2 separate regions of the Homo sapiens genome follow, and region 2 is linked to region 1. The links come from fine-mapping of genetic effects on gene expression. A gene starts in region 1. The other region holds a variant in brackets. All regions are shown on one strand. Distances are from middle to middle.

Region 1 (5,381 bases):
ACTACACCCAGCTAATTTTTTGGATTTTTAGTAGAGACGGGTTTTCACCGTGTTAGCCAGGATGGTCTCGATCTCCTGACCTCGTGATCCGCCTGCCTCGGCTTCCCAAAGTGCTGGGATTACAGGCATGAGCCACTGCGCCTGGCCTAAAGATTTTTTAAGATTAGGAAACAAAAAGTCTTCAGAGGGAGCCAAATTGGGACTGTAAGGTGATGTCTACTGATTTTCCACTGAAACTCTTGCAAAATTGCCCTTGTTTGATGAGAGAAATGAGCAGGAACTTTATCATGGTGGAAAGGTCTCTCTGATGAAGGTTTCCTGGGCATTTTTCCACTAAAGCTTTGGCTAATCTTCTCAAAACACTCTCGTAATAAGTACGTTATTATTCTTTAGCCCTCCAGAAAGCAAAATGCCTAGAACAACCCACAAAATGGTTGCCATGATTTTTGCTCTTGACTGGTTCACTTTGCTTTGACTGGACTACTTCCATCTCTTGGTAGCCACCGCTTTGTCTTCAGGATTGTACTGGTAAAGCGAAGTTTCATTCTTGGTTACAATTCTTCAAAAAAAAAAAAAGCTTCAGGATCTTGATCCCACTTGTTTAAAATGTGTGAAATTTTGAAAGCTCTGTTCTTGTCAGCAGCTGACCTGGGCACAATGGTTTTGCCACCCATTGGGTGGAAAGTTAGCTCAACTTTAATTTTTCAGTAAGGATTGTGTAGGCCAAATCTGTTGAGATATCTGTGGTGCTGGCTATTGTTTCTGCTGTTAATCATTGATCCTTTTCAATTAGCACATGAACAAGATTACTTTTTTTCCTCACAAATTGATGTGGAGGGTCTGCTGCTGTGGGCTTCATCTTCAACATCATCATGTTTCTTCTTAAAATGAATTATCCATTTGTAAACTGCTGACTTCTTTTGGGGCTTTGTCCTTTTACACTTTTATAAAGCGTCAATGATTCCACCATTTTTCCACCCAGGCTTCACCATAAATTTAGTATTTTGTATTGCTTCAATTTTGTAGAATATGTGTTCTGATAGGGACTCTCTTCAAACTGATTTCTTATCTTTCTTGGTGCTTCAAGCTAGATCCTGTTCAGACATGTTATAGCAAGTTAGAACAAATTTATTTTGGTGCAAACATTTATTTTATTTTTTTAGAGACAGGTGTCTCACTGTGCTGCCCAGGCTGGTCTCGAACTTCTGGGCTCAAGTGATCTGTCTACCTCAGCTTCCCAGAGTGCTGGGATTACAGGTATGGGCCACCATGCTTGGCCCTGTGCAAAAAAAAAATTGGAAATCCATGCATAGTTTTTTCATAATATGCATATTATTCATAATATTATTCATAATAGGCATATGTAATATGTTACCTTTCCCACAAACCCCATTAATCCCTTCTCTGATCTTTATTGATTTGGGTACCTCTTACAATCCATCTTGCATTGTTCCTGTTTATGTCCATCGCCCTCAAAAATATAAACTGGGCCTCCTAGGCTCACTTTGTTTTCACCTTGAGGCATGTCTTACACATTATTTTTGTGTTCACACCCACAAATCCAATCCTAAAAGCACTGAAATTGGAAAGGATTACATTGCGTGCCGCATGGAGGCTGGTGCCTGTAATCCCAGGACTTTGTGGGGGGCTGAGGTGGGAAGATTGCCTGAAGTCAGGAGTTCTTTTTTGTTTTGTTTTGTTTGTTTTTAGACGGAGTCTCACTCTGTCGCCCAGGTTAGAGTGCAGTGGTGCTCACTGCAACCTCCGCCTCCCGGGTTCGAGCGATTCTCCTGCCTCAGCCTCCGGAGTAGCTAGGATTACAGGTGCCCACCATCATGCCTGGCTAATTTTTGTACTTTTAGTAGAGACAGGGTTTCACCATGTTGGCCAGGCTGGTCTCGAAGTCCTGGCCTCAGGTGATTTGCCCGCCTCGGCTTCCCAAAGTGCTGCAGCGCCTGGCCGAAGTCAGGAGTTCTTGACCAGCCTGGGCAACACAGTAGACCCCATCTCCTAAAGGAAAGGATTACCTTGTACATTATACAGCAAAAGTTCTTAAAATTGTTTTTAAAATGTATCTCTTCCTTTAAGTTTCCACTCCCTATGTAAGTTGCCTATCCCTCTTTCCCTCCTTTTTGGGCTAGTATCGTCTCCAGCTTGCTTCCAAGTCCGCTAGGGAATACACACGCGCGCACACACACATACACGTGTGTGTTTACGTACTAAAAATATATAAACATTAATAATGCAAGATGGGGCCGGGCGCTGTGTCTCACGCCTGTAATCCCAGCACTTTGGGAGGCCGAGGCGGGCGGATCACGAGGTCAGGAGTTCGAGACCAGCCTGGCCAACATGGTGAAACCCCGTCTCTACTAAAAATACAAAAATTAGTCGGGCGTGGTGGCAGGCGCCTGTAATCCCAGCTACTAGGGAGGCTGAGGCAGGAGAATTGCTTAAACCTGGGAGGCGGAGGTTGCAGTGAGCCGAGATCGCGCCACTGCACTCCAGCCTGGGCAACAAGAGCGAAACTCCGTCTCAAAAACAAACAAACAAACAAACAAACAAAAACCAAGATGGATTGTAAGAGGTATATATATACACATAGGACTCCATTTCTTGGGGGACCTGGAGGGGAGAAAGTCACACCCATACACACACGTACACGCATGTATACAAAAATGAATATATGCTCAGATATATACAATATATAAATGGGCAAATATAAAATCCCCTTTGTGCCAACGAATCCATTCATTCATTCATCAAATATTTGAGCGTCCACTTTGCCTAGAACCAAGTTATCTGTTGGGATGAGCAAGGCATAAGAGGTTCTAGCTCTCATAGAACTTAGAATTCTACTGGAGGAAGATGAGAACAAATACAAAATGTAAACAGTGGAAGTTCTGTAAAAACAACACAGAGCTTTGTGAGAGTGATGCTTAGAATGCTCCTGATGTTCCATTGGGTGTTCGAGCAGGGGGAATGGACTCGGAGGTGAACTATGAGCCGAGATTCATTTTATAAACGGGAACACAGACACATGGACACTTGAAGGGCCTTGGTGGCCAGAAAACTGAAGGCAGGTTCCCATCCGTCTTGGCACCACTCTCCCGAATAGCAGTTTCAGGGAACTGCACAAGCCAAAACCAGCCGGTCGCAGAGTCCAGGAGCGCCTGCGCAAGAGGACGCCTGCGCAAGAGGACGCCGTCAGCTTGGCGTCAGCGCGCCGGGCTCTGGCCCGCCCCCTGTGACACCAGCCCCGCCCCACCCCGCCCCGCATACCCGTGCGCTGCCGCGCATGCTCCGAGCCCCGCCCCCGTGCGTCACAGAATGGCCTCGGACACCCAGGCAGTCCCTGACGTGTCGGGGAGGAGCCGGGCGCGGAGGTACGCTGAGTGGAGCTCGGGGCTGCGTAGGGGAGCTGAGCCGAGCGGCTGGGCGGGCCTGGCCGGGCCGGCGGAGGGGAGACGTCGGTTGAGCGGCGGCGAACATGCGCTTTTGACACATTGGAGGTGAGCCTGCAGCGCGGGGCCGCTCCCTAAGGGGCTGCGCTGGGCCGGCGGCGCCGAGGCCTGCCCTTGGGGAGCCTTCCCGGCCCGGGGCCGTGTCTGAGGCTCCGCCGGGGCGGGCCGGGCCGGGTTCCGGGGCGGCCAGCCTGGGGGCAACTGTTCCAACCGCTCTAACTGTCCCCTCCCTTCCCTGGTCCGATGTGTGGCCCCCCAGGGGCGCCTGCAAGGGAACGATTCCGGTGGCCTCCGGAAGATGTGCCCCGTTCCGGGTAGGGTGAGGGCTGGCGGTGACGGAGGCCGGGACGTGGCACCGTGGGCTGGGGCGCTGGCGGCGCAAGGAGTGGCCCAGTCGGAGGTGGCAGCGGCGCGCCCAGCCCGCCTCCTCCTACCCCCTCTTCGAAATTCCTTCATTTGCGAGGGTGGCTTGGAGCGGGGTTGCATTTTGATCTCTCAGTGCCTCTCTCCCATGGGGGGCGAGAGCGCGAGCAGCCCACGTTGGGCTCGGATTGGCATTCTCCTGACTCCCGCCCGGAACTGCTAATCATCCTCCCCCTGGAGTTCGGCAAAGTGTCACCAACGGGCTCGGGTTACTTGTGCTCGACTCTTTTCTTGCTGTAAGCCATGAGATGACCCTTTAAGTTTTGCAAAGGAGGTGAGAGTTCTGTCACCACTGATTATTACCTTCTATTTACGTAGCACCTTTACACGTTTCAGAGCACTCTTCTTCCTATCTTTTTCTAACCGCATCACCTTGTGGTTGCAACTGATTATGTTATCGCCATTTCGATGGGTAAATGGAGCTGGGATGGGGGTAATTATTTATACTTAGGTTCAACCAACTGGTGAGTGGTTTAGCTTGGATCATAATTTACATTTCTAGGCTCGGAGTTCTGGTTTCTTTTCGTGGGATTTTTATACCCTTCTCAGCTACAAAACAAGGCAGAAAATGTGACTTGCCAAAGATATGCCAGAAGCTGGTAGATTACTTACTCAATTATTTTTGAGAAAACTCACCTAGGATAAAAACGGCTGCTCAGTCATGAGAAAAATCTTCCTGTGAAGCTTGTTCAGGAGTTGCTGGTTAATTGCTTTGCTAAATCGTGAAGTTGATGGGCACAGTGCAGCGTTAAGTCATGGGCTGAAGAGAAGTAAAGGGAAACCAAGTGAAGTATTTCTTCTGAATTATTATTAAAATTATTGTTATTTAAAATTAGAGTGCGTGAGAAACAAAACCTTTGGCCAGCCCTGGTTAGAGGTTGACTTGATCCAGATAGAAGTTGCTAAATCTTCTGAAGCTGTAGTTCTTTTGATTTTTTTAAATTAAATAAATTGAAGTTGGATAAAGAGCTTAAAATAAGTAGGAACCTTAGTAAAACTTAGATCTTGCTTTCATGACATCTGCAAAACAACTTATTTTTGTTTTCATTTTAAACCATGCTGGGATAAATTTGGTTACTAAAGCTTAAAATTACTTCTGACGTAAGTTTCTGAGCACTCCATAAAGTAAAAAAGAAGTCTGATAGAATCAAAGAGAGACCGTGTTTATGATCAACTTTGAAGAGTTAAAAATTCTGTAAATGTCACCTTTGAGAGTAGTAGAATTTCAGTAAAAAGGCATATATTGCCAACAGTGAGTTCTGAAAGAACTCTTCTAACGTCAGTCCATTTTAGAACTGTTAACCAGAAACAATATCATTGAAAATAGATTTTCTTACCATTGTACAAAGAATAATTTCCTTGTAAATAAAAGGCATTTTGGACAGGCTGTTTTAAACTCAAATGAGTTGATTGTTGCTAGATTTCTGAAGGTCATACACAGTATGATAATGCTTTACGTAAAAATTGTCATGCTTTTGAGACTGTGTCCGTATTGAG
Region 2 (5,381 bases), 180 kb after region 1:
ATTTTCAAGCCCACTATGCTGCTTTATGCCTCCAGGCTCCCACCTATGCTGACCACTCTGCCTGGAATGCCCATCTTCCTCTGTCTATGATTGGGAAATTTTTTTTTTTTTTTTTTTGAGACGGAGTCTCGCTCTGTCGCCAGGCTGGAGTGCAGTGGCACGATCTCGGCTCACTGCAAGCTCCGCCTCCCGGGCTGACGCCATTCTCCTGCATCAGCCTTCCGCGTAGCTGGGACTACAGGCGCCTGCCACCACGCCCCGCTAATTTTTTTGTATTTTTAGTAGAGACGGGGTTTCACTGTGTTAGCCAGGATGGCCTCGATCCCCTGACCTCGTGATCTGCCCGCCTTGGCCTCCCAAAGTGCTGGGATTACAGGCATGAGCCACCGCGCCCAGCCGATTGGGAAATTTTTCAGCCTGGAAGTGCCCGGCCTCTGTTTAAGAAAGCAGGGCTATGTATATGCATTGTTTCATAGGTTCAAAGGATTAGAGAAACAGGAAGTGTAGGCTGGTGCAAATGTCAACGCAATGGAGCAGAGATACAATAGTCTCCTACTACGAACAGGGATTGAACTGGGAATATCATGTAACCCTACATCCCAACTGTAGCTCTCAGAAGAAATCAGACCACCATCGAGAAGGAAAGGGAGGAAGGAAAGAATAATTCACCCATACCACCTGCAAACACTGCACCTAGTTAAAATTCACATGCAAATTTTGAAAAAAAACCTAAATAATAAGATCATCATTCAGAGGATTCAGAAATAAATTACCTGTGGAAATTATCTATAAAATAACTAAAAGAAAACTTTAGGAGACAGATTTATATCTGTAACAGAATATAGTATAACATAGAGTCTACGTATTAGGACAGAAATGCATAAGAAAAAAAATAGGTGACCAGGGCCAGAAAAGACTGTAAGGAATCATCTGAAAACGTAAAATTAAAATCCACAGTGGAGAAAATAAAGGGCAGAATGGATACCTCAGGAAATCAAGTGATAAGAGCAGACATTTATTATAGGAGAGCATCCTTCTTAAAGAAAAATAGAACAATGGTAAAATAATAAAAGAAAATGACGTTACAAAGGCAAAACTTATCAGTAATAATAATACATAGAGGGCAGAGGAAGGATAACTAACATTAGTTGCTATTGCTTCTTTGAGAGAAAATAGCAAAAACACTCTGTAAAAAAAAAAAACTTGAGAAAACTGTGTGTGTGGAGGAATACACATTGAATTAAAAGGAATTCGCTAAGCTAACAAACGCAGAAGGAATAATGGCACTGGACTCACCATTTTGCAGCTCCCAGTGCCACAGTGGATCTGCACAATGCCCATCACTATTAAAATTTTTAGGTGACTGGCAGATGAGGCCACTCCTCATGCACAAACCAGGCTGGCAAAACCTAAAATGACTCACTACTGATCAATCTCAACATCATAAAGTGAGAGACAATGTAGCATTAAGTGTCTCCTGAATCTGAATCCGTTTAAGCCTCTGGATCCAATTTATGGATTTTTCTCCTTCCAGTTTATAGGGAGCACCATAGGATTGCAAAAAAAAAAAAAAAAAAAAAGGGTTGGGGGAAGCGGCCGGGCATGGTAGCTCATGCTTGTAACCCCAGCACTTTGGGAAGCCACGGTGGGAAGATCACTTGAGCTCAGGAGTTCAAGACTAGCCTGGGCAATATAGTGAGACCCCTATCTCCAGAAGCAAAAAAAAATAAAAAATAAATAAAAATAAATAAAAAGAGGGGAGAGAAAGAGATTAAAAGTGATATAACAATTGCTATGCTTTGACTGTGTCCCCACAAAAGCATGTGCTGGAAATTTAATCCCCAGTGCAACAATGTTGGGAGGTGAGGCCTATTGAGAGGTGCTTAGATAATGAGGGCTCCACCTTCATCAATGGATTAATGCCAATTATAAAAGGGCTTGTGGCTATAAATTCTATCTCTTGCTCTCTCTTGAGCATGCTCTTCTTGCCCTTCCGCCTTCTCCCATGGAATGATGCCGCAAGAAGGCCCCACCAGATGCAGCCCCTTGACCTTGGACTTCCCAGCCTCTAGAACCATAAGCCAAATAAACTTCTCTTGTTTATAAATCATACAATCTGTGTTATTTTGTTATAGCAACACAAAACAGACTAAGCAACCAATCTCAATATGTCAACCTTGTTTGGATCCTGAATTGTACAGACCAACTATTTATGAGATTATTTATGAGACAAAAGGAAAATAAGAAAAGTAACTGAATATTTGATGATTAGAGAATTGTTATTTCTTTCTTAGATAGATAATAGTTATGCATCCCAAAACCCGTTGCTGAGAAGATGCTAAGCAGAGCTTTCAGCAGCACAAAAGTCTAAGAGAACAAAAATTAAAACATTCCAGTCTACTCAGGAAGAGGTTGGTGTGGCGGTGGTAAATACCCCAAGCTTTCAGCTGGGACCCTGATGGCTACACCCTAAGAGTTAAGACTATATGAGAAACAGACCAGCCCTCACACAGCGTGAAGCCCAGTTGGAACAGAAGTCAACTCCTGCATGGACTACATGTCCTAGTTTCCCTAAGCCTGCCTGCCCAAAGCAAAACTCTAGAATAAGCTTAATGCCAGCCAGAGTCTCAAACTATTTCCACAATTCCTTGTACACAATAACTGGGCATATGAGGCAACAAGTTGTGGCTGAAATCCAAGATAATATCTGGAACCTCTGTGTGTCTATTTTTATTGACTTGTATTATTGCCCTGGGTTACAATATGTTCAAGTAATTAAAGACGTGACTGAGAATTCTGACAGAGAACTGGAAACTATTAAAGGAAAAACCCAAATGAAAATTCTAAAACTGAAAAACAAAACAAAACAAAACAAAACAAAAAAAGAAAACCAGTAACTACAATTAAGAATTCATGTGTTAAACAGCAAGCTAGATACAGCTGAAGAAACAATTAGTTACACGGCATTTTAATCAGAGGCAAACAGCCAGAGTGATCCATGGGGGAAAAACAAGGATAAAAATGTAGAGGAATGTGAGA[C/G]CCAGATGGGACGAGGTGAAACGATCTGGAGCATGTGAAGTATGTGAGTCCAAGAAGGAGAAAAAAGAGAATGAGGCAGAAGCAGTATCTGAAGAGATAATGGCTAAGAATTTTCCCGGACCAACAAAAGCCATCAAGCCACAGAGTCAAAACCACTACAATCTCCAAGCTGAATGCAGTAGTGCCCCTTATCTGTGGTTTCACTTTCTGCAGTTTGTTGTCCACAATCAACTGTGGTCCAAAAATATTTGTTGAAAAACTCCAGAAATAAACAGTTCATACATTTTAAATTGTGCACTATTCTGAGTAGTGTGATGAAATCTGGCACAATTCCGCTCCATCGTGCACAGACCGTGAATTATCCCTTCGTCCAGCATCATCATGCTGTACAGCTATTAATCACTTGGTAGCCCTCTCAGATCTCAGATCAACTGTGTTCAAGTCACCTTTATTTTACTTAAGAATAGCCCCAAGCACAAGAGTAGTGATGCTGGCAATTCTGATATGCCAAAGAGAAGCCACAAAGTGCTTCCTTTAAGTGATATGGTAAGTTTTCAACTTAATAACGATAAAATCATATGCTGAGGCTGCTAGGATCTATGGGAAGAATCAATCTTCTATCTGTGAATTTGTGAACTAGGAAAAAGAAATTCATCAAATCATCACAAGAAGAGTACAATAAGATATTCTGAAAGAGGGAGAGAAACCACTTACATAACTTTTATTAAGTATATTGTTTTAATTGCTCTATTTTAATAGTTATTGTTGTTAATCTCCCACCACGCCTAAATTGTAAATTAAATTTTATCATAGGTATGGCCAGGTGCGGTGGCTCACACCTGTAATCGCAGCACTTTGGGAGGCCAAGGAGGGGGCAGATCACGAGGTCAGGAGTTCAAAACCAGCCTGACCAACACGGTGAAACCCCGTCTCTACTAAAAATACCAAAATTAGCCAGGCGTGGTGGCGCACGCCTGTAATCCCCGCTACTCAAGAGGCTGAGGCAGTGGAATTGCTTGAACTGGCAGGTGGAGGTTGCAGTGAGCCGAGATTGCACCGTTGCACTCCAGCCTGGGCTACAGAGGGAGACTCTGTTCTGTCTCAAAAAAAAAAAAAAATTATCATAGGTATGTATGTATAGGAAAAAACATCATATATATATGGTTCAGTACCATTTGTGGTTTCAGGCATCCACTGGGGATCTTAGAATGTATCCCTTGAAGACAAGGAGGACCCACTATATACAAAATAAAACTTTACCTAAGCCCATCACAGTAAAAGTGTTGAAATCCAAAGACAGAGAAAATTTTAGAGACAGCCAGTGGCCGGGGTGGGAAAAGGAAAACCGATGACCTTCAAGGGAACAACAATCAAACTACAAGCTGAATTCTCAACAGAAAAAGACGAAAGGCAGAACCCGATGCAATGGCATTTTCACAATGTTAAAAGAAAACAACCGCCGGCTCTGAATTCCAAATCCAGCAAAAACCAAAAAAACTTCAAAAATAAAGGACGAGTAGATACTTCAGATAAAAGGGGCCCTTTCTAAAAGAACGGAAGCTAAAAGATGTGGAAAAAAAAGAGTAATGGATAAAACTAAATGAATATCGACAGTATTAAAATGTAATATGTGTCTTGTGGGTTTTAAAATATAGAGAGAATTAAACAACAAAAGCACATAAATTAGGAAGGAAGAGGAAATAAATTTGTTCAGGTGCTCTCAGGCCCTACCTATCATGATCTACAAAAGAATAAGAGCTCCACATGTCTAACAGGTCAAGGATCCATGTTGGAATATGTAACCACTAAAAGAATAGCTAAGCAAATAGCAAAAATGGACAGCTAACACGAGGTGAAAAGACAGAATAATAAAAATTATAACCAACGGACAAAAAGATTAAAAAATAAACATAGAGCGGGTAGGATAAAAAGAAAGCAATGAATCAGAGGACAGATTTAAGCTAAAATGTAACAGTCATTACATCACATGTACATAAACTAAATATTCCAGCTGAAAAATATTGTCAGATTTGGGACAAAAATAACCACCATAAGCAGTTTATGAGAGACATATTTTAAAGGCACAGGCACAGAAAAGCTGAAAGTAAGTTAAGAAAGCAATTAACCACACAAACACTAATCCAAAAAAAAAAGGCTAATGCAAATATCAGACTTTGCAAGAAAACAACAGTCAATTTTGCAAGAAAACAACATCACTAAAAATGACCATTCCATGATTTGCCAGAAAGACATCAAATTTCTACATCTGTATATACGTGATAATAGCTTCAGCATGTACACAGCAAAAATGGACAGAACTAAAAAGGAAGGGATTTTCACAG

Which allele goes with the higher level. Positions count from the first base shown, and alleles are read on the strand shown. Sizes are in standard deviations (SD) of each study's normalised expression.
As copies of G replace C in region 2, the expression in monocytes of the gene that starts at base 3,348 in region 1 goes up (moderate effect, 0.46 SD a copy in Fairfax 2014).

Evidence for each region. PIP is the estimated chance that this variant, and not a neighbour inherited with it, causes the effect. A credible set is the group of variants that fine-mapping cannot tell apart.
Region 2: its variant is the best candidate, but not a certain one, in a credible set for the expression of NDEL1 in monocytes (Fairfax 2014, PIP 0.51).

What each region holds. Positions count from the first base shown.
Region 1 is chr17:8,432,537-8,437,917 of GRCh38, forward strand. NDEL1 (nudE neurodevelopment protein 1 like 1) reads left to right here and starts at 3,348. Exons shown (of 9, transcript NM_030808.5): 1 at 3,348-3,509. RefSeq lists silencers at 3,152-3,321, 3,422-3,621, 3,662-3,901.
Region 2 is chr17:8,608,713-8,614,093 of GRCh38, forward strand. The region is part of intron 2 of MYH10 (myosin heavy chain 10); the gene reads right to left. Among named protein-coding and RNA genes, the nearest start is that of MYH10, 19 kb to the right of the region's middle. The variant C/G (reference allele first, on the strand shown) is at 3,040.